Homo sapiens: one gene and its partners. The protein of the gene in region 6 purifies or fractionates together with the protein of the main gene of each other region. This does not show direct contact. Each region holds a gene or a part of one and is shown on either strand. Other genes may lie near its edges.

Region 1 (3,500 bases), on a different chromosome or scaffold from region 6:
TTCAATTATAAAGTAATACATATTCATAGTGAAAAAAGTAATAACAACATTACAGAAAGACATAAAAGGAAGAAAAGATGCCCCCTCTTTCTTTCACCCCTTTAGTCTTATTTGACACCCTAGAGGTAAAGCCATTAACAGTTTCTTGTGTGTCTGTTCAAAATTTTTTCTACACATATACATGTATATATGTAGAATAACTTAAAATGTGGAACCCCAAAAATGCATCTCTCACCTCAGACAGATGTTTTCCTCTGTATAACTGAGTTAACAGAGTCATATAATACTGCAACATGTCCTTAAGTTTGTAAAGCTGTAGGTATGATGTTCTTGTTAGGTACACCTCACCTGTTTTCCAGATCCGGCATGCTTAGGTTTCTAGCAGCAAAGCACATTTTGAGAGGGATGATCTTCCTGTCCTTGGTGCTGTTCTGGTGTTTTGGCGAACCAGAGTCCTCACTGCCACTAAAGCTTGGTGACTGGGGGGCTGCACCTTCCCACGGCAGATCTGATACTAATGATGGCTTCTTGATATATGGTGTTACTTCTCGGATGAACTTGACTATGAACAAAAAAATCAAAGAAGAAGGTTAGTAATTTTGCTTCCTATAATAAATGATAACTAAAGTATTCACATACATGCTATATCTATAACAAAGTGGAGGAAAGAGCTGGGCGCGGTGGCTCACTCCTGTAATCCCAGCACTTTGGGAGGCCGAGGCGGGTGGATCACTTGAGGTCAGGAGTTCAAGGCCAGCCTGGTCAACGTAGTGAAACCCCATCTCTACCAAAAATACAAAAAATTAGGTGAGCGTGGTGGCATGCGCCTGTAGTCCCAACTACTCAGGAAGCTGAGGCAGGAGAATTGCTTGAACCCGGGAGGCGGTGGCTGCAGTGAGATTGTGCCACTGCACTCCAGCCTGGGCGACAGAGCAAGACTCTGCCTCAAAAACAAACAAACAAACAAACAAACAAAAAATGGGGGAAAAAAGTAAGTTAAAGAGCCATGAATCCCCTGGAGATAGATTCTAAGACAGACCCATCTAGGCTTTAGATGATTCAACCTTTAGAAACTTCTCCATACTTCTACCCACTGGTTCCCTGTCTTCTCAAGCCATATAGAACAAACTTAATCTCTCTTCTACATGAGAACTCTGTAATTATCTGAAGACAGATTTTTCTCTTCTCTCTCCTCCCCATACTAAGCTAAGTATTTCTATTTCCATTCAACTCAATCAACTTTTATTAGCTACCTACCAAGTGTTGGGAATTAGGCTAGCCAGTAAAGACACAAGGGCAAATGAGCCATGGATTCTATCCCTCAAGGAATGCCCAGCCTTGCAGGGGAGACAGCTATGTAAACAGGCCATTACAGTTCTTAAAATCAAGTGCAAAAATAAAGTATATTCAAGATAAGGTATGATCTAATAAGCACAAAGCCAACTCAACTGATCCCCCTTGCTTGTTCAAAATACTCTATTTCCATTAATGTGGCCCCAAATGAAAATCAAGCTTTTAGTAGATAGGAAGCTTTTTTAAGTTCAAATTTAAAACTCATAAAATACTTGTTTTACTTCAGTCATGACTACAATTACTGTCACTCGAGGCATGGTGTTCTTGTTTCAAAAACTAGACAAACTGGCTGGGCACAGTGGTACACACAGTTTCTCCTGTGAATAGGTAATACATGCACATAAAACAAAACTCAAGAGGTATAAAAGGTTTTATAATAAAAGTCCAGATTTCTAGCTACCCTGTCTCCATTCCTAGAGGCAACCATTCAAAGAGATGCCTGGTATGCTAAGCATGTATGAAAATAAACACATACACATGCGTGTATATCTGATCATACATATGGTGGTACATTATGCTTACCGTGCTGCACCTTAGTTTTTTTATTTAATAAGGTTGATAGTCTTTTATAGGCCTAATAGTTGATAGCTCATTCTACAGCATGATGTGGTCATAGAGATGCCTTTGGAATCAAGAAGACCTTGTTCAAATCCTAACTGTGCTTGCTATTCAAAGCTATGTGACCGCACTTAACTGTTCTGAGGTCCTCATCTACAAAATGGGAGTAACACTAAGCAAATAAAAATTTCAGGCACATACTAAACATTCAATAAATACAGTAGGTACCTTTCTTTTTCCTTCCCTAAATTAGAAAGTTAGAGAAGAGTTAAAAAATTTTAATGGTAATCAGTAGAAGAGTTAAAGTTATTTTCTTATACGTTATTAAAAAAGATTTACTGAAATTAAGTATAATAATAAAAAATATAACAATTCCAATGCTAGAATTTAGATGTAGTATATCTCTGTGCTTTTTGTGCATAGTTATAATACACGTGCTTCTGGGTAGCTGCCTCAGGTCACCAAGGAGATTTTTTTACCCTAGAAAAATCAGCAGGAGTGCAGTCAGTATAACCCTTGAGCAGCTGACTCAAGCATTTCAATACATACTTCAGCTTTATGCTTTGAAGGACTTTGGCAGAAATTCCTAAGGTTTCCAGTTACTGCAAATGGCAGAGGCATGCTTTTTGAACATTTAAGGCAGTACACTATTGGGCTACCAACTGGAGGAAATTAAAGACATTCTAAATGAATTCTTGAATAATATAGTGGTTAGAAAAGAACCCTTAACGATCTACTCAGTTCATTCAATCACACAGTAGCATCACTGAACTGATTACTACACACATCCTAAAACAAAAACAGACATACACATACAATTTATGTATTGCCTTATTAAAAGAGCAATGAATTTTATCTGAGTTGATGGCAATGCAGTCCATACCCCCATCTAATTAGCCATCCAGAATGGCTGAAGAGCTGTGGATGGACATCTGTTTCTATGTTTGGGAATGGCAAAAAGTTAACAGTCTTCTGTTTCAGTCCTATGTTAAGGCCTTAACCTGGACACGTGGCTGGATAAGCAGAGCCTTTACACCCCCACATGGAGCTTTCAGTTCAACTCAGAATCCACAACATATTTCAGAATCATTTCATTTTTCCTGATAGTTGAAGATAATCCTCAAAATAATTTAATTAAACACTGATGTTTACAAACTGTTTTGAGTGTTCAGATGCTGAAGCTAATTTTCTTTCTTCCATTCATGTATCCCTTTTTTTTTTTTTTTTTTTTTAAGATGCAGTCTCACTCTGTCGCCCAGGCTGGAGTGCAGTGGCACAATCTCAGCTCACTGCAAACTCTGCCTCCTGGGTTCACGCCATTCTCCTGCCTTAGCCTCCCCAGTAACTGGGACTACAGGCGCCCGCCACCACGCCCGGCTAATTTTTTGTATTTTTAGTAGAGACGGGGTTTCACCGTGCTAGCCAGGATGGTCTCGATCTCCAGACCTCGTGATCCACCCGCCTTGGCCTCCCAAAGTGCTGGGATAACAGGCTTGAGCCACTATGCCCGGCCTCACGTATCCCTTTTACTGAACGTGAAGGTGGGCTTCCTCCCACCCCAAAAGCATTACTGTGATCCCTTCTCTTCT
Region 2 (3,500 bases), on a different chromosome or scaffold from region 6:
GTGATACTCCCACCTCAGCCTCCTGAGTAGCTGGGATTATAGGTGTCTACCACCATGGCCGGCTATTTTTCTTTTTTTGTAGAGACAATGTCTCACTGTTGCCCAGGCTGGTCTTGAACTCTCCTGGGCTCAAGCAATCCTTCTGCCTTAACTTCCCAAAGTGCTGGGATTACAAGTGTGAGCCACTATACCCAGCCAAAATTCTTAACATGCAATCTTGCAATCTTTCCCACCTTCTTCAGCAAAGCAAGTAACAAAATTTAAAATGATCTGCAAACTAACAAATCTTTATTCTTTGCATAAATACCATTTAATAACTATTTTTAGCTTTATTATTAAAAGATTTTCTATGGTTTTTAAATACCCCAAATTAATATATACAACAGAAATAATAAAGTCTTGAATTATGCCCTTTAAATCACTTACTTTTGCAATTAAGATTCTCTGAACTGGTTCAGAGTCATCAAAAACCACAAAACCAAAATTTGGAAGCTTTCCCCCAACACCCTTGGTATTGATGCGAAGTTCCACAACGTTTCCAAAACCTGTGAAAATATACATTACATCAAGGGTTAAATATTTTTAACAGAATACCTTGATGGCTCTAATTGTTCAGGATGAATATCGTTATCTCCCCGATCCATTTTAAAATAAAACTCGCAAGCTTCTACACACAGTGATAGCCAAGGTACGTTTACTCAAGCAGGCAATCCCCTAAGATACCAAGTAGCCTGCCCGCCTGCTGTGTTACCTTTCTGCATCTTTGGTAGTCCTTTCATAAGTAAAGTTAACTGCATAATTTTGGAAAGACAATGTATTTTCTCCTAATATATTGACCCATTTGCCAAATGAATCCTTTATCTCTGAATTTATGACTGATTTATCCAGCTGTTTCTTCTAAACACTACTGAGCCAGGCCAAATCAACACTAAGCAGTCACTGAGAAACATGTGAGATAAGTCATCTACTCCCTTCTGCACAATTAAGGTGGGTCTGGTAGCTGGACACAGTATAAAGAGAGAAACATTTAAAAAAAATAGTTATTAAAAAAGCTCCATATGCCTCTTGCTTAATTTAAAATAATTTAAAAACTCCAACAGCAAAATAAATCACTTACTCATGAAGAATTCCTTTAGCTCATTTTCATCAATATCATGTGGCAAGTTACCAACAAAAAGTTGATGACTATCTGGATAGCGAATTATTCTACGGTTGTCAGAGTCATTCTGTTCCATATCTCCTCTGCCTGAGAATAGAAATAGAGCAGATACTAAAGTTTACAATATCATAAAAACTACTTCAAAGGAGTGAATGTAAAAATCACTTAATATTGATATTCCTGTTTTAGTTTAATAAGACTAGGTGAGCTTCTTGAAAAAGAGGCAAAAGTACTTATTACTAGTAGGTTAGAAAACAGCATGACACTAAAATGTAAAGTGAGGACAATGACTAGGTTGCTAAAATAGCTTCTTCTAGATCTACTGGATTATACAAAAATCAAATATTAGTACTACAGGTATTCCTCCTTAACCAAACTGTTGCCATCACCCAGGAACCAAGCAGATTTCAGATAGTGAGGTATAGCTTACTAAATATTTGCTTAGTTTTTTGAAATTCAAAATTCTTTGGCTTTATGACATTACAGCAATCAGTAAATTTTAACAGCAATCATCACATTTATGCAGTCTATACATATTAAGTGTGTATGTATATAGATATACATAAAATCTTATTTGATTCTCCCAATAACACAAGGAACACAGTGAGGAAAATAGGCAATACAAGAATAATTTGTGTAATATTTGACATAAAAGAAGCTCAGAATTTAAGGGTTTCACTCAAGATCCCAAGTTTAATCACTGACAAATTTAGGACTTCTAGTTTGGTAACATATCACTTTAAAAATTCACATTGTAAATGTGATATATACTATCTCCATCTCTCCCATCTCCTCCCCAAAGCAATCTAAACATTCTTACAGAGTTCAAATAAAAGTATTACATGTGTAGCTAACAAGGTAAACAAGTCAAAAATCATGGCAACTTACTTAATACCTAAGAATCAAAATGGGCTTATTGTTTATCTGTAAAGAGATAAGACTGCTAAGAGAGTAGGTTATTGGCAGCTTGGTTTTGAACTCTTAAAACCAGTGACTAGGCCGGGCACAGTGGCTCATGCCTGTAATCCCAGCACTTTGGGAGGACGAGTAGGGCAGATCATGAGGTCAGCAGATCGAGACCATCTTGGCCAACATGGTGAAACCCTGTCTCTACTAAAATACAGAAAATTAGCTGGGCCTGGTGGCGTGTGCCTGTAATCCCAGCTACTTGGGAGGCTGAGGCAAGGGAATCATTTGAACCCGGGAGACAGAGGTTGCAGTGAGCTGAGATCACGCCATTGTACTCCAGCCTGGCGACAGAGCAAGACTCCGTCTCAAAAAAAAAACAAACAAACAAAAAAAAAAAACAAAAAACCGTGACAATAACCAAATAAGACTTAAGTCTTTTACACCTTCAAAATATGTCACCATGGCATGTCAACCAATCCTCCCTAAAAATTGGTTATTTGGCCCCAGACACTATTTAGCAGGTTGCTCACATCACATCTTTAAGCAATTTGAGACTATATGGGTCTGTGTATAGAACGCATCATAGTTTTTTGTTTAAGTTCAGTCTTTTACAGCCTTACAAATGTTAAATGCTAAAGGCTATAAAGGAGCTGACTCACCTGGTCTTGGTCCTCTAGGAGGAAAACCAGGTCGTTCTCTAGGTCGTTGTTCACGCACACGAGGTGGCTGAGATTGAACTTCTGGTTTAGCTTCGACTCTTGGCTAAAATATAAAGAAAAAAAAACATTATAAAAAACACTCCACTGGAGAAAAACCAACCAAAGCACCTAACGACAAGTCACTAGCAGACATAACAGTAGTTTTAAGTTTAGAATGTTTTTAACATAGTGTCCTATGTATGAGAAAAATAAATTTTTATCAAGATATTCTGTACCAATCTAGGACTGTAGGTAGCTTTTGTTTTCCCACTTAATGCTGTGTAACTCACAATAAGTTGCTTTTTACAGTCACATTTTTTCATTAAAGTTATATCAACACTGAAATAGCATAAAAGGTATTGCTACCAAAAAAAAAAATCACAAAAATGCAAGATGAACCACTCCATGTAAATACATAAACAAAATTAAAAGCCATCTTCATCTTAGACAAGAATACATAACACATAATTTCTGAAAATCTAATTTGCTATCCTTCAAATGTAACAGTGCTCAGTAGTATTGCCTAAATCTCTGCCCATAACCTTAAAATCAGTATTTTTATAGTTCAAAGTATAAAAATTAGCTTGCTCTAACACCTGAAATTGCTACCTGTAAGGTTAAAATGCATGTTAAAAAAATGACAGAAACTTATAGGAACTTGTATGTAGCATCTCAAATAGTTAAAGTCCTTTAGCTCCCTACTGTTCTTCCTTATGAGAAAAATATGCATTTGA
Region 3 (3,500 bases), on a different chromosome or scaffold from region 6:
AGAGGTTCTGTTGCCTGAGCCAGCAGGCACAGGCAGCCCCAGCCCCGTTCCTGACCACCACTTCTTTGCCCTGGTGGTAGTCGTGCCCGAGCACTCCGGCCACTTTCTGTCTTAGCCTGGAAGCATTGCTGGCACCCCTGCAGCACCTGCCAGGCATGTGAGAGGCATTCAGCGAACTCATGGCAAATTGAAAGTGCTAACACATGGAAGAATCCACACCAAATCTGTGTCCATCAGGTGGCAGCTTGCCAAAACCTGGCCATCGCCGTGGCTCACCGTCTTCACCCTTCAGCTGTGGTCCGAGTGAGTCTCCTGAGAATTCTCACTGAGGCACTGAGGCCTCAAGTGATTCTCCTGTCTTGGCCTCCCAAAGTGTTGGGATTACGGGTGTGAGCCAGAGTTGGTTGTATTAAATTCTGACCAATGCAAGGCTTCAGGAACAATTCCAGAGCCACGCAGAGTCCAATAAATGCCCGCAGGGTAAGTCTGTGAGTGCAGCACATGAGCAGCTGACAGTGTTCTCCTGGTGTGGGTGGCAGCGGGTGCCTTCACTGACACTTCTCATGCAGGGCAGGACATGGGTGTTGTGGTGTGTCAGAGGCTCCCTGGCAGGTACTGACACCCTCTTTTCTGCTTTTCCCAGGGCGGTGTCCGTGTCCTCCATGTCTGAGTTCCAGCGTCTAATGGACATCTCCCCCTTCCTGCCTGAGAAGGGCCTGCCGTCCACCAGCAGCAAGGAGGATGTCACCCCACCCCTGTCTCCAGACGACCTCAAGTACATCGAGGAGTTCAACAAGAGCTGGGACTACACACCCAACAGGGGCCACAATGGTGGGGGGCCGGACCTTTGGGCCGACAGGACCGAGGTGGGGCGGGCAGGGCACGAGGACAGCACAGAGCCTTTCCCCGACTCCTCCTGGTACCTAACCACAAGTGTCACCATGACCACGGACACCATGACCAGCCCAGAGCACTGCCAGAAGCAGCCACTGCGGAGCCACGTCCTCACCGAGCAGTCGGGGTTGCGCGTGTTACACAGCCCGCCTGCCGTGCGCAGGGTCGACAGCATCACGGCGGCAGGTGGTGAGGGTCCCTTTCCCACAAGCAGAGCCAGAGGGAGCCCGGGAGACACCAAGGGAGGCCCTCCAGAACCCATGCTCAGCAGGTGGCCTTGCACCTCCCCCAGGCACTCCCGGGACTATGTGGAGGGGGCACGGCGCCCCCTTGATAGTCCCCTCTGTACCTCCCTGGGGTTTGCCTCCCCACTGCACAGCCTGGAGATGTCCAAGAACTTGAGTGATGACATGAAGGAGGTGGCCTTCTCTGTCAGGAATGCCATCTGCTCCGGCCCTGGCGAGCTGCAAGTCAAGGACATGGCCTGCCAGACCAATGGGTCCCGGACGATGGGGACCCAGACTGTTCAGACCATCAGTGTGGGCTTGCAGACTGAAGCCCTGCGTGGCAGCGGTGTCACCAGCAGCCCCCACAAGTGTCTCACTCCAAAGGCTGGGGGCGGTGCTACACCCGTGTCGTCTCCTTCCCGGAGCCTTAGGAGCAGACAGGTGGCCCCTGCCATCGAGAAGGTGCAGGCCAAGTTTGAACGCACATGCTGCTCCCCCAAGTATGGTTCTCCCAAGCTGCAGAGGAAGCCCCTCCCCAAAGCCGACCAGCCAAATAACAGGACGTCACCAGGGATGGCCCAGAAAGGGTACAGTGAGTCAGCCTGGGCCCGCTCCACCACCACAAGGGAGAGCCCCGTGCACACCACCATTAATGATGGCCTCTCCAGCCTCTTCAACATCATTGACCACAGCCCCGTGGTGCAGGACCCCTTCCAGAAGGGGCTGCGGGCCGGCAGTCGGTCTCGCTCAGCAGAGCCCCGACCAGAGCTGGGCCCAGGCCAGGAAACAGGCACCAATTCCCGAGGAAGGTCGCCTAGCCCCATTGGGGTGGGGTCAGAGATGTGCAGGGAGGAAGGGGGAGAGGGCACGCCAGTGAAGCAGGACTTATCTGCTCCCCCTGGCTACACGCTCACTGAGAACGTGGCCCGGATCCTCAACAAGAAGCTGCTGGAACATGCCTTAAAGGAGGAGAGGAGGCAGGCTGCCCACGGGCCCCCGGGTCTCCACAGTGACAGCCACTCGCTGGGGGACACAGCCGAGCCAGGGCCCATGGAGGTAATGAATGCTGAGTGCCCCACACCCTTCCCCACCAGCTCTTCCCTTTAGCTGTGGGGCAGGTTGGGACTTGGGATTGTGCTCTGTCATTTGATCTCAGGAATCGTCCATGATTGGTTATTGGGAGCTGGGGAGGTGTTAGGTTTATGGGAGAATAGAATAGGCAGAAAAAGCCCTGAGCAACTTTTTTGAAGAAAATGTTATTTTATTGTCCTTGGGAAATCATATAGTACATGGTTTGATTTGGGTTCTGTCACCAGTCTTAAGTGATTGATCCTTATTTATCAGGGCATTTTATTTGGGGTCAGTTTGCCTTCTTTCTGTGTGAATTCGTGCACATGTACAAACTATGGGATAGTTGTGTCAGGCTTGCTGCATACTGCAGACCTTCATATGTGACAGCATGAGGTGAGCTGGAGAGGGTCTGGACCACATGAGCACGAGCACTTCTCATCAGGAGCCACAAGATCTCGATTCCTGGGCTGGCTTCCTTACAAAACAGCCATCTGGCAGCTCACAAATCACTTACCCTCTTTGTGGCCATGAGCCCCCCTAGCAGTAAAACCAAGTGAAACATATAGACAAAATCAAAATCCTACCCTAATACAATATGATTATCATTATTGCCCTTGATATTACTCACAAATCAATCCACTGTGAATTGGGTTCTGATGCACATCCACATGTGGTGTTTTTGTACACCACTTTACAAAACGCTTCCCATTTCCACTTCAACAATGAGCAAAATGAAAGCCTGATGTTGATGCTGGTGGTGATGGCTATGGTGATGCCACTTTGTGGTTCGTGCAGCACAGAGAGGACGTGTCTGTCCAGCGAGTGATTCCAACTCGCCAGGAGTCCGGATGAACAGGCTTCACACTGGGAACACCTGGCCCCATGAGCACTCTCCGAGCCAGGCTGCTCCCGCAGATGGCGGGGGTCAGAGGAGGAGGAGGACGGCAGCTTGCTCCTGGTCTGCCCGCTGCTTCCTCGCCAGGACCCAAGCAGCCCTGGCTTCATGGGCAGGGAGAGGAGGAAGGTGTATTGCCTGTTTCACCTGGCCCACGTTTCCCACAAGAGGGTAAATGATGGCTGTCTTCCCAGCCTGGCCCACCAATGAATGTTTAACTCAGAATGCAGGCTTGAAATCTGAATAGGTCAGACCTGTGGAACTGCCAATGGCTTACAGAAGTGGCAATTCCATATGGTTCACACCTAATACAAATATTGATACTACATGGCCTACATGTTCCAAGATCTGAGTCTTTGTGATAAAGTTGTTTGCATGCTCTGAGGACAAACTGCTGGTTGAATGTTCTCAGG
Region 4 (3,500 bases), on a different chromosome or scaffold from region 6:
TGAATCTGGACAGAGTGAGATTCTGTCTCAAACAAAAAGTTCAAACATCATTAGCCATTTAGCCATCAGAGAAATACAAATCAAAACTACAATGAGATACCATCTCACACCCACCATTAGTTATTATAAAAAAGGTGGATAAGTGTAGTGAACATGTGAAGGAACTGGCATCCTCATATATTGCTGGCAGGAATGTACGACGGTACAGCAACTTTGGAAAACAGTTTAGCAGTTTCTCAAAATGTTAAACACGTAGTTACCATATGACCCAGCACTTCCACTCTTTGGTATATAACCAAGAGATATGAGGACATATTTCCACACAAAAATTTGTACATAGTATCACTATTTATAATAGCAAAAAAAAAAAAAAAAAGTGGAAATCCAAAATGTCTATCAACTAATGAATGGATAAACAAAATGTGACAAATCCATACCATGGAATATTATTCAACCATAAAAAAGAACGAAACACTGATTGATTCATGACACAACATTGATGACCCTTAAAAATATTACGCTTGGCCGGGCGTGGTGGTTCATGCCTGTAATCCCAGCACTTTGGGAGGCCGAGGCAGGCGGATTGCCTGAGCTCAGGAGTTCGAGACCGCCCTGGGCAACACAGCGAAATCTCGTCTCTACTAAAATACACACAAAAAATTTAGCCGGGTGTGATGGTGGGTACCTGTAGTCCCAGCTACTCGGGAGGCTGAGGCAGGAGAATCGCTTTAACCCAGAAGGTGGAGGTTGCAGTGAGCTGAGATCGCATCACTGCACTCCAGCCTGGGCGACAGAGGGAGACCCTGTCCCCAAAAATAAAAAATTAAAATTAAAAAATTATGCTTAGGCACAACTATGATACATCAACTGAAAAATATCAGGCTGGGTGTGGTGACTCATGCCTGTAATTCCAGCACTTTGGGAGGCTGAGGTGAAAAGATTCCTTGAGGCCAGGGGTTCAAGGCCAGCCTGGACAACACAGTAAGACCCTGTCTCCATGAAAATAAATGAATAAACAACAATAATTAAAACTGACCTCCTGGAGATAAGAAAAAGAGTTAACTAGGAGATAAGAGAAAATTCAAGAATTGTTAAGTCATTAATTTGAGATGGAGTTCTGGGTCTTTTGCTTCCCTTCCATCAACTAAGTGAGGAAGGTTCCAACAGAAACAAATGGGAGTGCCTAAAAGAAAACTAGCATCTCTTTCCTGGTTACACAGGCAACAGACTTGGTGATCTGCCTGAGCTCTGTCTATCTGAACAGAAGGAGAGAATTTTAAAAAGTGCCCACTGGAGCCTGAACCATCCTGCTGGTATCCATCCAAAGGAGTCCAGCAGTATGAGGTCAAGGATACACAGCAGGTGGTAAAAGCCACAGAAAAGTCTAAAAACCAAAAGTGGAGATCAAGTCCCTCTGGGCCAGGCCTGGCTATTGCTGCAAACACAGAGATGGTGAGTGATAACTGGATATGAGACTGGAGTTTTAAAGAGATTTCTGATTCTATTAAGCTCTGTAAAATAAAACCTGCAAGGCACTGATCTAGAAAGAAGCAAAAGAACCTTGGGTCAGCAAAATACTTATTCTTAAATCTACTACAACAATGTATGTGTGATTTTTTTAAAAAGAAACTTACAGGCAAAGCTGAGGGGTAGAGGGAATACTTGGGGTGGAGAGTAATTTACTCTTCCAGGGGCCAACAAGCTTTAAAGTCAATTTCAAAAATACACATGCTTAGTAAAAGCATCCAGATATAAAAGGTAGTGTATTTAGAATTCCATTTATAAAATGTTCAGAATAGGCAAATTCATAGAGGTCATGTAAATTAGTGGATGCCAGGGGTTAGTGGACGGAAGATAGGGAGTGACTGGTAAAGAGTACAGGGTTTCTTTTTGGGGTTCTAAAACTGATTGTGGTGACAGTTGTACAACTCTGTTTGAATACACTACAAAACAGGCAGGCACGGTGGCTCATGCCTGTAATCCCAGCACTTTGGGAGGCTGAGGCAGGCAGATCACTTGAGGCCAGGAGTTCGAGACCAGCCTGGGCAACATGGTGAAACCCTGTTTCTACTGAAAATATAAAAATTAGCTGGGTGTGGTGGCGTGAGCCTGTAGTTCCAGCTACTCAGGATGCTGAGGCAAGAGAATTCGCTTGAACCTGGGAGGTGGAGGTTGCAGTGAGCTGAGGCTGCGTCACTGCACTCCAGCCTGGGTAACAGAGCAAGACCCTGTCTCGAAAAAAGAAAAAAAGAAGAAAAAAAAGAAAATATACTAAAAGCCACTGAATTATACCCTTAAAATGAATGAATTATACCCTTAAACCCACTGAATTATACTCTTAAAGTGAGTTCATATACTGTATGGTATATGAACCATATGTGGTATGAACCATACAGTATATGAACTCTATCTCAATAAAGCTGATTAAAAAGGAACCTGTAAGAAATAAATAAAATAAAAAGGAACCTGTATACACATTTTCAAATACTAAATATGATTAAAAGGTGTTGTTTTTCTGCTAGCATTGGGTCAAAAAGGAAAAAAAAGTTGATATACTTCATCTCTGAACTAGATCTAGAAAGAAACAAAAACAACTACACTGAAATCATACTCTGTCTACAAAATGTCATTAAACATCTTAAGCTCAGTTCTAAAGATTTGTTTCCAGATAATACAATGTCAAGAACTACTGATCAGACCTGTATAAATTTCTATGTTCAAATTCAAGCCCTTACCTCTCAAAATTCAATTCTAAGACTAATAACCCAATAGAAGATTAGAGGTTAGGGAAACAGTAGTAACAACTGCTAAGGAATCAGACAATAGAACTTTGTGTAAAATATCCTTGAAATCTTGAGGAATACGTTCTGATTGTATTTTCCAGTTGCTTGAGAACTTATAAGGCAATGGTATAAAATATAAAATAATTTCTAGACCAGGCATGGTGGCTCACACCTGTAATCCCAGCACTTTGGGAGGCCGATGTGGGTGGATCACGAGGTCAGGAATCGAGACCATCCTGGCTAACATGGTGAAACCCCGCCTCTACTAAAAACACACACAAAAAATTAGCCAGGCGTGGTGGCGGGCGCCTGTAGTCCAGCTACGCGGGAGGCTGAGGCAGGAGAATGGCATGAACCCGGGAGGCGGAGCTTGCAGTAGCTGAGACCGCGCAACTGCACTCCAGCCTGGGTGACAGTGTAAGACTCCATCTCAATAAATAAATAAATAAATAAATAAATAAATAAATAAATAAATAAATAAAATAAACATAAATAAAATTCCTCAGCCTGGGCAACACTGCAAGGCCCTATCTCTACAAAAAAAAACTTAAAAAAAAAAAATTAGCCAGTCATGGTGGCATGTGCCTATATTAGGCTGAGGCTGGAAGACCCCTTGAGCCCAGAAGGCTATGCAGTGAACTATGATCGAGCCACTGTAAAGGCAGATAAGTGTAGTGAGGATGTGAAGGAACCGGCACAAGAAATCCCATACTCCTT
Region 5 (3,357 bases), on a different chromosome or scaffold from region 6:
ATTGCTTGAACCTTGGAGGCAGAGGTTGCAGTGAGCTGAGATTCTGCCACTGTACTCCAACCTGGGTGACAGAGTGAGACTGTCTAAAAAATAATAATAAAATAAAATAAAAATCCAGCCTGTGGGATTCAGTTATAGCAACAGAAAATGGACTAAGACAACCACTAAACAGAAACTCATCCAAAACAGAGGGATTAATAGAGGGATTAGATCCAGAGACCTAAGCTCTCTGGTATAATAAAAGCAGTTCCCTTTAATTGAACACTGAGTTTGTGCCTGGCACTCATCTCATTTAATCCTCACAACACTATAAAGCATCATCACTCCATTCTGCAGTGGAAAAAATGGGGCCCAAGATCAAATAACTAGATCCAGAAGTCCAAGTATGAATGGAAAGAATTTTGGATGGGGCTCCGTACAATCCAAGCATTCATTATTACTATTTTTAGGGGGCAGGGTAATAATCTCAATAAATTGACTGATGCTTTGTTGCTCCTTCCCTTTTCACCAAACCCACTCTCTCCCTTCACTAGTCAAAGATAACCAAGTAGCCTGAGACATAACTCAAATGGGGTACAAATTTTATAGGAAAATAACCTTCTGGATTTTCTCAAGGCAACTTCCAGCCTGGCTTGTGACATTGTGGACCCAAGGAGATACCAGTTCCGGATGGGGCACTGTTCTGTTCTTACACACAACAGAAGACAAGACTCACCATACAGATGTTGTGTTCTTTTCCCATTGCACCCGCCATGGTTTGGAGGCATAGATAGCCTCCCCATTGATGCTCAGCCATTTCCCAACAGCAAGAAGCCTTTCTTGGAAGATGGGAACAATCAGTCCATCTTTAGTTGGTCCAATGTTCAGAAGATAGTTGCCTCCCAAACTTACTGTCTGAACCAGTTCCTGGAGAGAACAGAAACAATGAAAGTCTAGCTATGAATGCCAAGCCTGGCATCATGCTTAAAATAGACAGAGAAGAAAAAGAATCTAGGGCACACTCTGTTTTTTAAATATCCTCTGCTGTTTTAATTTTTTTTTTTTTCTTTTTGAGCTGGAGTTTCACTCTTGTCGCCCAGGCTAGAGTGCAATGGCGTGATCTTGGCTCAACTGCATCTCGGCTCACTGCAACCTCCACCTCCCTGTTCAAGCGATTCTCCTGCCTCAGTCTCCTGAGTAGCTGGAATTACAGGCATGCGCCACCACATCCAGCTAATATCATTCTATTTTTAGTAGAGACAGGGTTTCACCACGTTGGCCAGGCCAGTCTCAAAACTCCTGACCTCAGGTGATCTGCCTGCCTTGGCCTCCCGAAGTGCTGGGATCACAAGCATGAGTCACCGCACCTGAGCTAAAAATTCTCTCTCTATATATATTTTTGTCACTATAAAAGCAGGTTAGGCTCATGTGAGTAAATGAAAAATCAGGCTATATTATATTAACTTGAATTTCAGGGAGTGGCCATGGAGCACTTCCTGTGACACTGTACTTCTCATGGTGCTGAGTGCAGTGGGAAGGGTCATGCCCCAGAAACATGAGGTGTGGGCAGGGAAGCTGAGAATTTCAGGACATTCCTTACGCATTGGGCTATATAAATGAACATGCTGCCCCTTTGGGAAAACTGCTATAAAGAGATACGTTCTTTTTTTTTTTTTTTTTTTTTTTTTGAGACGGACTCTTGCTCTGTCTCCCAGGCTGGAGTGCAGTGGCACAATCTCGGCTCACTGCAACCTCCGCCTCCTGGGTTCAAGTGATTCTCCTGCCTCAGGCTCCCGAGTAGCTGGGACTACAGGTGCGCACCACCATGCCCAGTTAATTTTTGTATTTTTAGTAGAGATGGGGTTTCACTATGTTGGCCAGGCTGGTCTTGAACTCCTGACTTTGTGATCCACCTATCTCAGCCTCCCAAAGTGCTGGTATTACAGGTGTGAGCCACCGTGCTCAGCCAAGAGATACATTCTTTAAGACTTCTGGAGTGGGATTTGGGTGTGTGTGTTTTTACTGTGACCTTGAACAGGTATTATACATATCCAGGCAGCTCAGAAAAACTAAGGTTATATAGAGAAAATTTTAAATTCATTACAGAATTTGAAGAATTCAGACAGGCATGGTGGATCACACCTGTAATCCCAGCACTTTGGGAAGCCAGGACAGGTGGATTACCTGAGGTCAGGAGTTTGAGACCAGCCTGGCCAACGTGGTGAAGGCCCTGTCTCTACTAAAAATACAAAAATTAGCTGGGCACAGTGGTAGGCACCTGTAGTCCCAGCTATGCGGGAGGCTGAGGCAAGAGAATCACTTGAACCCGGGAGGTGGAGGTTGCAGCAAGCTGAGATCGTGCCATTGCACTCCAGCCTGGGCAACAAGAGCGAAATTCCATCTCAAAAAAAAAAAAAAAAGAATTAAAGAATTCATTATAAGAATTCATTACAGTACTCCAAGTGACACCACACCATTAACTTTTGATGTCTTCTTCTAGTCTTTTTCCTATGTAGTTAATTTTATATAGTTGTAATAATATGTAACTTATTTTATTTATTTATTATTATTTAAAAAAAATTTTTGTTTCAGACGGAGTCTAGCTCTGTCACCCAGGCTGGAGTGCAGTGGCGCAATCTCAGCTCACTGCAACCTCTGCCTCCTGGGTTCAAGCAATTCTCCTGCCTCAGCCTCCTGAGTAGCTGGGATTATAGGCATGTGCCACCACGCCCAGCTAATTTTTTTTGTATTTTTTAGTAGAGACGGGGTTTCACCACATTGGCCAGGATGGTCTCGAATTCCTGACTTTGTGATCCACCCTCCTTGGCCTCCCAAAGTGCTGGGATTACAGGTGTCAGCCACCGTGCCTGGCCACTTATTTTTATTTTTTAAAATAGAGATGGGGTCTCACTATGTTGTTTAGGCTGGTCTTAAACTCCTGCCCTCAAGCAATCCTCTTGTCTTGGTCTCCCAAAGTGTTGGAGTTACAAGTGTGAGCCACCACCATGCCCAGCCAATATGTAACTTTATTAAAAATAATAATAATAATAGAGATGGGGTCTTTCTATTTTGGCCAGGCTGGTCTTGAACTCCTGGCCTCAAAGGATCCTCCCACCTTGGCCTCCTAAAGTGTTGGCATTACAGGTATGAGCCACTGTGCCCAGCCAATATGTAACTGTTTTTTCATTCAGTGCTCTAAACATTAACCCATATTAAATTTGTCAACATTTTTATGGTTACCAGGAGTTCGAGACAAGCCTGGCCAACATGAAGAAACCCTGTCTCTACTAAAAACACAAAAATAAGCTGGGCATGGTGGCACGTGCCTGTATTCCCAGCTATTCGGGAGGCTGAGGCAGGAGAATTGCTTGAACCCGG
Region 6 (3,500 bases):
GACGGTAGAGCCAGACCCAGTCTCAAAAAAATAAAAATAAAAAAATTAATGTAATACAGCTACTATGAACCCACAAAAACTTTAAAAAAATTTTTTAATTATTAAAAAAATGTAATGCTGCTACTGTTTTGCTTATGTAGATTGTGGGCTAGAATAGGAAATAAAACTATCATTTTTAACACTTTTCTGGGGGGAAATATTATTCGAATTTCATAACAATTAGCTTGATGACCTTTTAGAATATATATGTAGACCATTGTGATGTTGGGGCTGCCTGTTGTAAATAGGATTTTTGTGAGCTTGATTGTACAAAATTGAAATTTGCAAACATCTTACTGAGTTTACTGTTTCCTTCTGGGTGTTAGGCCTACTGTAGAAATCAGAAAAATCGGAAATATTTTGTTGCTTGCTTTGTGAAACTCATGATGTGACATGGATTAAATTTCTAAAAAGTTTATTTAATTGCCTTTAAAATTAGTATGTCAAAAAGTTTATTTATTTATTTATTTATTTATTTTAATTTGAAACAGTCTCTCTCTGTCACCCAGACTGGAGTTTAGTGGCATGATCTCAGCTCACTGCAGCTACCACCCCCGGGTTTAAACGATTCTTATACCTCAGCCTCCTGAGTAGCTAGGATTACAGGGGCCCGCCACCACACCCAACTAATTTTTGTATTTTTAGTAGTGATGGGTTTTTGCCATGTTGGCCAGGCTGGTCTGGAACTCCTGGCCTCAAGCAATCCACCCGCCTCAGCCTCCCAAAGTGCTGGGATTACAGGCGTGGGCCACCACGCCCAGCCTCAAGTTAATAATTTATAATCCCAGCACTTTGGGAGGCCAAGACGGGCGGATTGCCTAAGCTCAGGAGTTCCAGACCAGCCTGGGCCATGACGAAACCCTATCTCTACAAAATTTTTTTTTTTAATTTATAATGAGAAAATAAATTTACATTTCCTTCTTAGGTCTCTAGAGGATCCATTTTTTTTCTGCAAAGCATCTGTCCACACCCTCTTACCATGCTTGTATGCCTTAAAGATCTAGCTTGGCCTGTCAGCAGTGTGCTTCATTGGGAATCGATGCAGCACCCTCCTGCCTGCAAGCTGACTAAAAGCCTTTTCCTTCTCCAAAGACTTTGGGACCATTTGTATTCACCAGGGAAAGGGTCAAACAACTCCTGCATCTTCTTCCCCTGCTTTTCTTGGCACATCTACTGATACTAGCTCCTAATTTGGGCAAGAAAAAAGTCAACAACTGGAGGTAGAGTGTGTTGACCCTGGACTCACCCTGAAAGGTAAGGGCACAAGAGATAGTTGTATTTAGCTGTATCTTGTTAGAAAAATACATTTGTGTAGCCAGGCGCGGTGGCTCACACCTGTAATCCCAGCACTTTGGGAGGCTGAGCCGGGTGGATCACGAGGTCAGGAGTTCAAGACCACCCTGGCTAACATGGTGAAATCCCGTCTCTACGAAAAATACAAAAAATTAGCCGGGCGTGGTGGTGGGTGCCTGTAGTCCCAGCTACTTGGGAGACTGAGGCAGGAGAATGGCGTGAACCCAGGAGGCAGAGCTTGCAGTGAGCAGAGATCACACTGCACTCCAGCCTGGGCGACAGAGTGAGACTCCGTCTCAAAAAAAAAAAAATAAATAACATTTGTGTGCATTCATGTGTACGTGTGTCTGTACACATGTACAAGAAACAACCGAGCATTTCTTTAAAAACCTTAGTCAGTTAGAACTGTCTCTGTTGCAGGTGACAGAAAACCCAGTCTAAACAGGCTTAAATATAAAAGGGCTGTTAGTTCATATAACTAAAAAAAGTCCAGGGCTAGAGTTACGGTCCATCTGCTTCTGCCTCCTTGGCCGTAGTTCCATGATTGGGCTCGGCACCATCAGACATAACTTCTTCCCACACACAGCTGTGCTCAAGCAGAAGCCCTCAGGTGGTCTCCTTGATCTGTGTGGGGCCTAGAGTTACTTCCACCACAGCAAAATCTCATTATTGTTGCTGCAGGAAAAGAATGGATACTGAGTGGCAGAAATACGAAACTGGATAAATTTTTGCCTTTATAAGACATTTGTTTCCAGTCCTTCTCAGACTGTATAAATTCTCCCAAGTCAGAGAGCAGAATTCTCAAACAAAAATGCAGGGACAGAACCAGGCACAGTGGCTCACAAGGCCTATAATCCCAGCACTTTGGGAGGCTGAGGCAGAAGGATCAGTTGAACCCAGGAGTTCAAGACCAGCCTAGCCATCATAGTGAGACACCATCTCTACAAAAAATTTAAAAATTAGCCAGGCATAGTGGCACACTCCTGTGGCTGAGATAGGAGGATCGCTTGACCCCAGGAGGTTGAGGCTGCAGCAAGCTGTGATAGTGCCACTGCACTCTAGCCTGGGTGAATACAGCAAGACCCTGTCTCCAAAAATAAAAATTTAAATAAAAATGTTTTAATTCAGGGACAAGCAGTTCTTGATTTTAAAGACGTATCTGCTTTATGTTGGGGCTATCAGAATTCCAGTTGCTAATTGATTAATCTGCTCTGTTAGGAGAACGTTTGTTGAATACCTGCCCTGCCAGGCTTTCTGCTTACACTGGTGGGGGGCACATTGACAAGATTTTGGGCTGTGTTTTCAGGGACCTCCAGCAGAGAAGGGTCACTAGGATACAATGTGGCATGCATGAGCTAAAAACAGAAGTGATTTAACTCTCAGAGGGAAAATGGATCAGATAACACTTCATAGAGATGACGACATCTGGTTCATTTTTGAAGAGTGAATAGAAAGATCCCAGCCCTCCATACCAAGAGAATAACTCCTGCAAACATTTTCTGACCTGGTGCCTGACCAATGGACCACACATCATCAGGAAGGCTAGAAAGTTGAGTTCCAGGAGGGAATGATAGAAGGCAAAGCCTAGAGAGATGGCAGGGGCCAGACTTCAGGGGCCTGGGGATGTGTACTTGCACTCCAAGTCGAGGAGACTGAACTTTTTACCAAAGACTTGGTGTTCTGTAGAAGTATGAGCAGATGAGTGACAAGATCTGGTTTATATGTTAAGAAGTTCTCAGCTGTAAGGTGAATAGATTGGAGGTGTTGGGGCAAAGGCAGGGGACCCAGTGAAGACAAGGAGCGAGGCTCTATACTGAGGCCCTGGTAGAAGTGGAGCAGATGGGCCACCTGAAGAGCTACTAGGAAGTTGACACCAATAAGATGTCGTTAGTCTGTGTATGGGGAGTGAGGGAAAGGAAGAACTTGCCAGTTTCCAGGTTTTAATCCTTCCAAAGGATTTCTGCAGAAAGACACTGGAAGAGCTGTATTCCTACTTATCCTTAAAGGAAAGAAACTGCCCTTGAATTCCAAGGACATGATTACTGAGCTGGAATTCCAAATAATGTGTCCCAGTGAGACTCCTGGGGGTAGTTTTGTCCGGTAACTGTGTGTGTTAGATGAAACTGCAGACTTCCAGCCACTCTATCTTACCATGTCTGTTAACAGTT
Region 7 (3,500 bases), on a different chromosome or scaffold from region 6:
TGTGAATCCCTTTACCCATGTATATGTGTTTGTCTTCACCGCTGATTTGCAAATAAGAAGTCTCATATCAAGTGGGAAGGGTAGATTTTTATAATTTCACTGAAATTCAATACCAAATGGTAAAATCTGGAATGCCTTGACTGTGAGAGAAAATAACAAAATATTTTAAATAGGGTATACATTCCAATTATTAGTTTTTGAAATTTATTCTAAAGAAATTTCTGCTCATATAAGGATGGGCAGAGGATAACTGGGCTTGAATAACTGGGCCACACCTACATTTAGGTGTGGTGGAGAGGCAGAGCTCCAGAGCAATCTGTTCAAAATTCTGTGATGCTGGAAATGCTCTATATCTTCTTAGTCCAATATAGTAACTACTAGCCACATGTGGCTATTAAACACTTGAAAGGTAGCTAGTGCGACTGATGAAACAGATTTCAAATCTTATTTAATGCTAAGTAATTGAAATAGCCACGTGTGTCTAGTGCTATCTTAATAGACAGTGACACTCTAGAATTAAGCACAACAAATAGGGTCTTTTATTTAATATCGGAGGTTAATTTCAAGCACCTCTGCTAAATTCGGATGATATAGATAGGACAAGAAGGTGAGTATTCTTTGTGCAATTTCCCTTTTATCTACAGAAATACAGATCAATGAAATCCTTTGATTCTAGTGACTGCAAGTCCAAGATTTTCCAGAGAAGTGTTGGTCTCAAGTAGTCTGTAGTTTTGTTTGCTTAAGAATTTTAATGCTCATTCATTTTCTCATTTATTTTTTTTAAAAAACCTTATATTGAATATATTTGTGTTGGACACTGACATTGAAAAGATAGTAGTAGTGCAGAGTTCCTTGATTCAGGAAATCCTTGGAGTATCCTAAGGAGTAAATGGTGCAGAGCAGATATTACAGAGGAGGGGAGAGAAAATGCTGTGTGGAGAAGGAAGCACTGGGATAAACCTTAAAGAAATGGCCAGTGTTCAATAGGAAGCTGGGGAAAGGAGGATCTTGAGAAACAGAACAGTATGGGAAAACCAGGGAGAGATGAGAATCAGAAATGTCTGGAAATGTAATAATGGCAGCAGCACAGAAAATAGACTAGTGTGTAGACAGAAATGAGTCCAGAAGTTAATGTTACAATCCAGAACAAGTATGAGGGAGGTTATGAGCTAAGGGGATGAAAGTAGAATTTAAAAAGAGTAGATTTGAGAGGTGTTTTGTCTGTTGCTTCTCTTTACAATAAGTCAGGTAGAGAACAACTGATTTATCTTTTAAGCCCCCTTGAAAATTGTCGATTACTGCATACAATGCTGGAGCAGGATTTTTGTGGCCAAGGAAACTGAGCGTATCTTACAATATGCAAGTTTTTCAAACAGGACCAACTTACATAAATCATCCTCTTGGAAGTAGGCGCAACTACATCATGTATGTAGTTGAAATGTATGACACATGACAATTTTGTTTGGGGATGTAATGTAACTGAGGTGGAAACTTAATATTTATGAGACTTCCTCTTTCGTTAAAATCTTAACATTCTTTGATTTTGACAAATAGTGTTTTTATTTCTTCCAAAAATACAAGAATTTTAAAAGTATATAATTAGGCATCGTTTAGAAAGGTCAAAAAAGCAATCGTCTGTTGAATTTATGATTTGGGTACATTATTCTTCTCCAGTCTTTACCCCATTTTGATGGACTTTTTTCTCTTGGCAGTATATCCAGGTTCATTTATAGGTGGGAAGACAGTAGAAGCTGTTATTCCAGCATCAAAGCCCCCACTGTTTTCTAATAAGACGTTAGGTTTTATTTCTTCCAAAGCCTTATGATCACTGCAGTCAAAAAAAGAAGGGTGGAAAATGCAGAAAAATGGTGGAGGAGGTGGAGTATGGTCTTGGTCATAAAGAAATGAAAGGAGAAAGGTATTACTGAAGAGTATGGGCATTAGTCTGACTGTAAGGAGGACTTTGGCAGTAACTACAAGCCAGAGTGAGTGAGGAAAGAATAGCAGCCATTTGGGCAATGTGCTGACCATGTGTGGCTTGATACTAGGAAACCTGAACATACAGCAGGACAGAGAGGAGCACATCATGTGAGAGTTCCATGAGTTCTCGGATTTAAGAAAATAGAAGACTTTCTAAGTGCCAGATACTGTTCTAAGTACTTTTTGTTTAACCTATTTAAGGCAATTAACCCTTTTTTTTTGGAGAACAGTCATAGAACATGGAAATCACTGAAGAAATGTAAGTAGTGGTGGGATGCAGTGGCTCACGTCTGTAATCCCAGTACTTTGGGAGGCTAAGGTGGGTGGATCACCTGAGGTCAGGAGTTCAAGACCAGTCTGGCACCAACATGGCGAAACCCCGTCTCTACTAAAAATACAAAAACAAAACAAAAACTAGCCAGGCATGGTGGTGTGGGTCTACTGTAGTCCCAGCTACTCAGGAGGCTGAGGCAGGAGAATCACTTGAACCAGGGAGGTGAAGGTTGCAGTGACCCCAGATCGCACCACTGCATTCTAGCCTGGGTGACAGAGTGAGACTTCATCTCAAAAAATAAAAAAATAAAAAAATAAGTAGTTATTATCTCTCCATCAATCCTCACAACAACCCTATGAGCAGGGTACTTTTACCATCTTTATTTTACAGATGAAGAAATTAAGGCCCGAGAGGTTAAGTAATCCCCCAAACAGCATACAGTTAATCAGAGAGAGCTCTATTTAATCAGCTCAACTACTACGCCATCCTGCCTACTCTTAATCTATGTTAATTTTATAATATGTACAGAGATGATACTTGTAACGTGCTCACAAAGTGCCTGACATATAGTAAACCTGCAAAAATGTTAGCAATTATCATTATGTAATAAGATTTAGAAGACTTTCCGGTATTTATGTCATTCTACACCGACACTGCTCAGAAATAGTAACAAGATTTTTAGGGCAGCTCTGGATTTTTCTTATGTAAAGTGTAAAGAAAGCTTTGTTTAGGAGCATGCCCTTATAAATTGGAGAAACTCTTCTTCTACCCAAATACTGTCAATCAGTTTGACTGGCACAGTTGAAGTTTTTACCTCAAAGAATGGGCCTCATTGAAATGTTCTATATACTCATCTACATGGCTCTGACCTTCTGACAGAGAATGACTGCTGCTAATGGTACTAATAAGAGCAAATGGAATTCCCTTCCAAGCTTGGTATTTGAATAATATGTCAATTTGTTCATTGCCGTCTTACTAGGAATTAAATGCGCTAATATTTTTATAACCTAAGGGAGCTAGTGCGAGGTTGGCAGCCAGAAAAGGGAATCAGGCCAGAGGCTGGCCAAGGCATAGTCATGAGGGGGTGGAAGGGTCACAAAGTCAAAGTCAAGCAGGTGGACCCAGGCAGAACCCAACCAGACTCTAGAACAAAGTTAGGTTCAAAGTTTGGTTCTTATCTCCTTTCCCTATAATGTGGGCTGGTAGGGGTGGGTTGATTGTCATCCTCTGTACAAAAAGAATTGTA

What was found.
Region 1: the proteins of MARK3 (region 6) and SNTB2 purify together in Homo sapiens (affinity purification with mass spectrometry, with the first as the bait; one large-scale study listed by BioGRID). This does not show direct contact.
Region 2: the proteins of MARK3 (region 6) and G3BP2 purify together in Homo sapiens (affinity purification with mass spectrometry; one large-scale study listed by BioGRID and IntAct). This does not show direct contact.
Region 3: the proteins of MARK3 (region 6) and MTCL1 purify together in Homo sapiens (affinity purification with mass spectrometry; 2 studies listed by BioGRID and IntAct, with this or other methods). This does not show direct contact.
Region 4: the proteins of MARK3 (region 6) and PPM1G purify together in Homo sapiens (affinity purification with mass spectrometry, with the first as the bait; one large-scale study listed by BioGRID). This does not show direct contact.
Region 5: the proteins of MARK3 (region 6) and FUCA1 purify together in Homo sapiens (affinity purification with mass spectrometry, with the first as the bait; one large-scale study listed by BioGRID). This does not show direct contact.
Region 7: the proteins of MARK3 (region 6) and DTNA purify together in Homo sapiens (affinity purification with mass spectrometry, with the first as the bait; one large-scale study listed by BioGRID). This does not show direct contact.

Annotation. Positions count from the first base shown.
Region 1 is NC_000016.10:69,242,664-69,246,163, reverse strand, and holds part of SNTB2 (beta-2-syntrophin), read right to left. Parts: intron 563-3,500; coding exon 349-562; intron 1-348. UniProt on the Homo sapiens protein: Adapter protein that binds to and probably organizes the subcellular localization of a variety of membrane proteins. May link various receptors to the actin cytoskeleton and the dystrophin glycoprotein complex.
Region 2 is NC_000004.12:75,645,912-75,649,411, forward strand, and holds part of G3BP2 (ras GTPase-activating protein-binding protein 2), read right to left. Parts: intron 2,831-3,500; coding exon 2,728-2,830; intron 1,247-2,727; coding exon 1,118-1,246; intron 546-1,117; coding exon 427-545; intron 1-426.
Region 3 is NC_000018.10:8,824,056-8,827,555, forward strand, and holds part of MTCL1 (microtubule cross-linking factor 1), read left to right. Parts: intron 1-115; coding exon of another isoform or gene 116-161; exon of another isoform or gene 162-303; intron 304-643; coding exon 644-2,177; intron 2,178-3,499; coding exon of another isoform or gene 3,500-3,500. UniProt on the Homo sapiens protein: Microtubule-associated factor involved in the late phase of epithelial polarization and microtubule dynamics regulation.
Region 4 is NC_000002.12:27,399,592-27,403,091, forward strand, and holds part of PPM1G (protein phosphatase 1G), read right to left. Parts: intron 1-3,500.
Region 5 is NC_000001.11:23,847,934-23,851,290, forward strand, and holds part of FUCA1 (tissue alpha-L-fucosidase precursor), read right to left. Parts: intron 907-3,357; coding exon 716-906; intron 1-715. UniProt on the Homo sapiens protein: Alpha-L-fucosidase is responsible for hydrolyzing the alpha-1,6-linked fucose joined to the reducing-end N-acetylglucosamine of the carbohydrate moieties of glycoproteins.
Region 6 is NC_000014.9:103,486,415-103,489,914, forward strand, and holds part of MARK3 (MAP/microtubule affinity-regulating kinase 3), read left to right. Parts: intron 1-3,500. UniProt on the Homo sapiens protein: Serine/threonine-protein kinase. Involved in the specific phosphorylation of microtubule-associated proteins for MAP2 and MAP4. Phosphorylates the microtubule-associated protein MAPT/TAU. Phosphorylates CDC25C on 'Ser-216'.
Region 7 is NC_000018.10:34,716,798-34,720,297, forward strand, and holds part of DTNA (dystrobrevin alpha), read left to right. Parts: intron 1-3,500. UniProt on the Homo sapiens protein: May be involved in the formation and stability of synapses as well as being involved in the clustering of nicotinic acetylcholine receptors.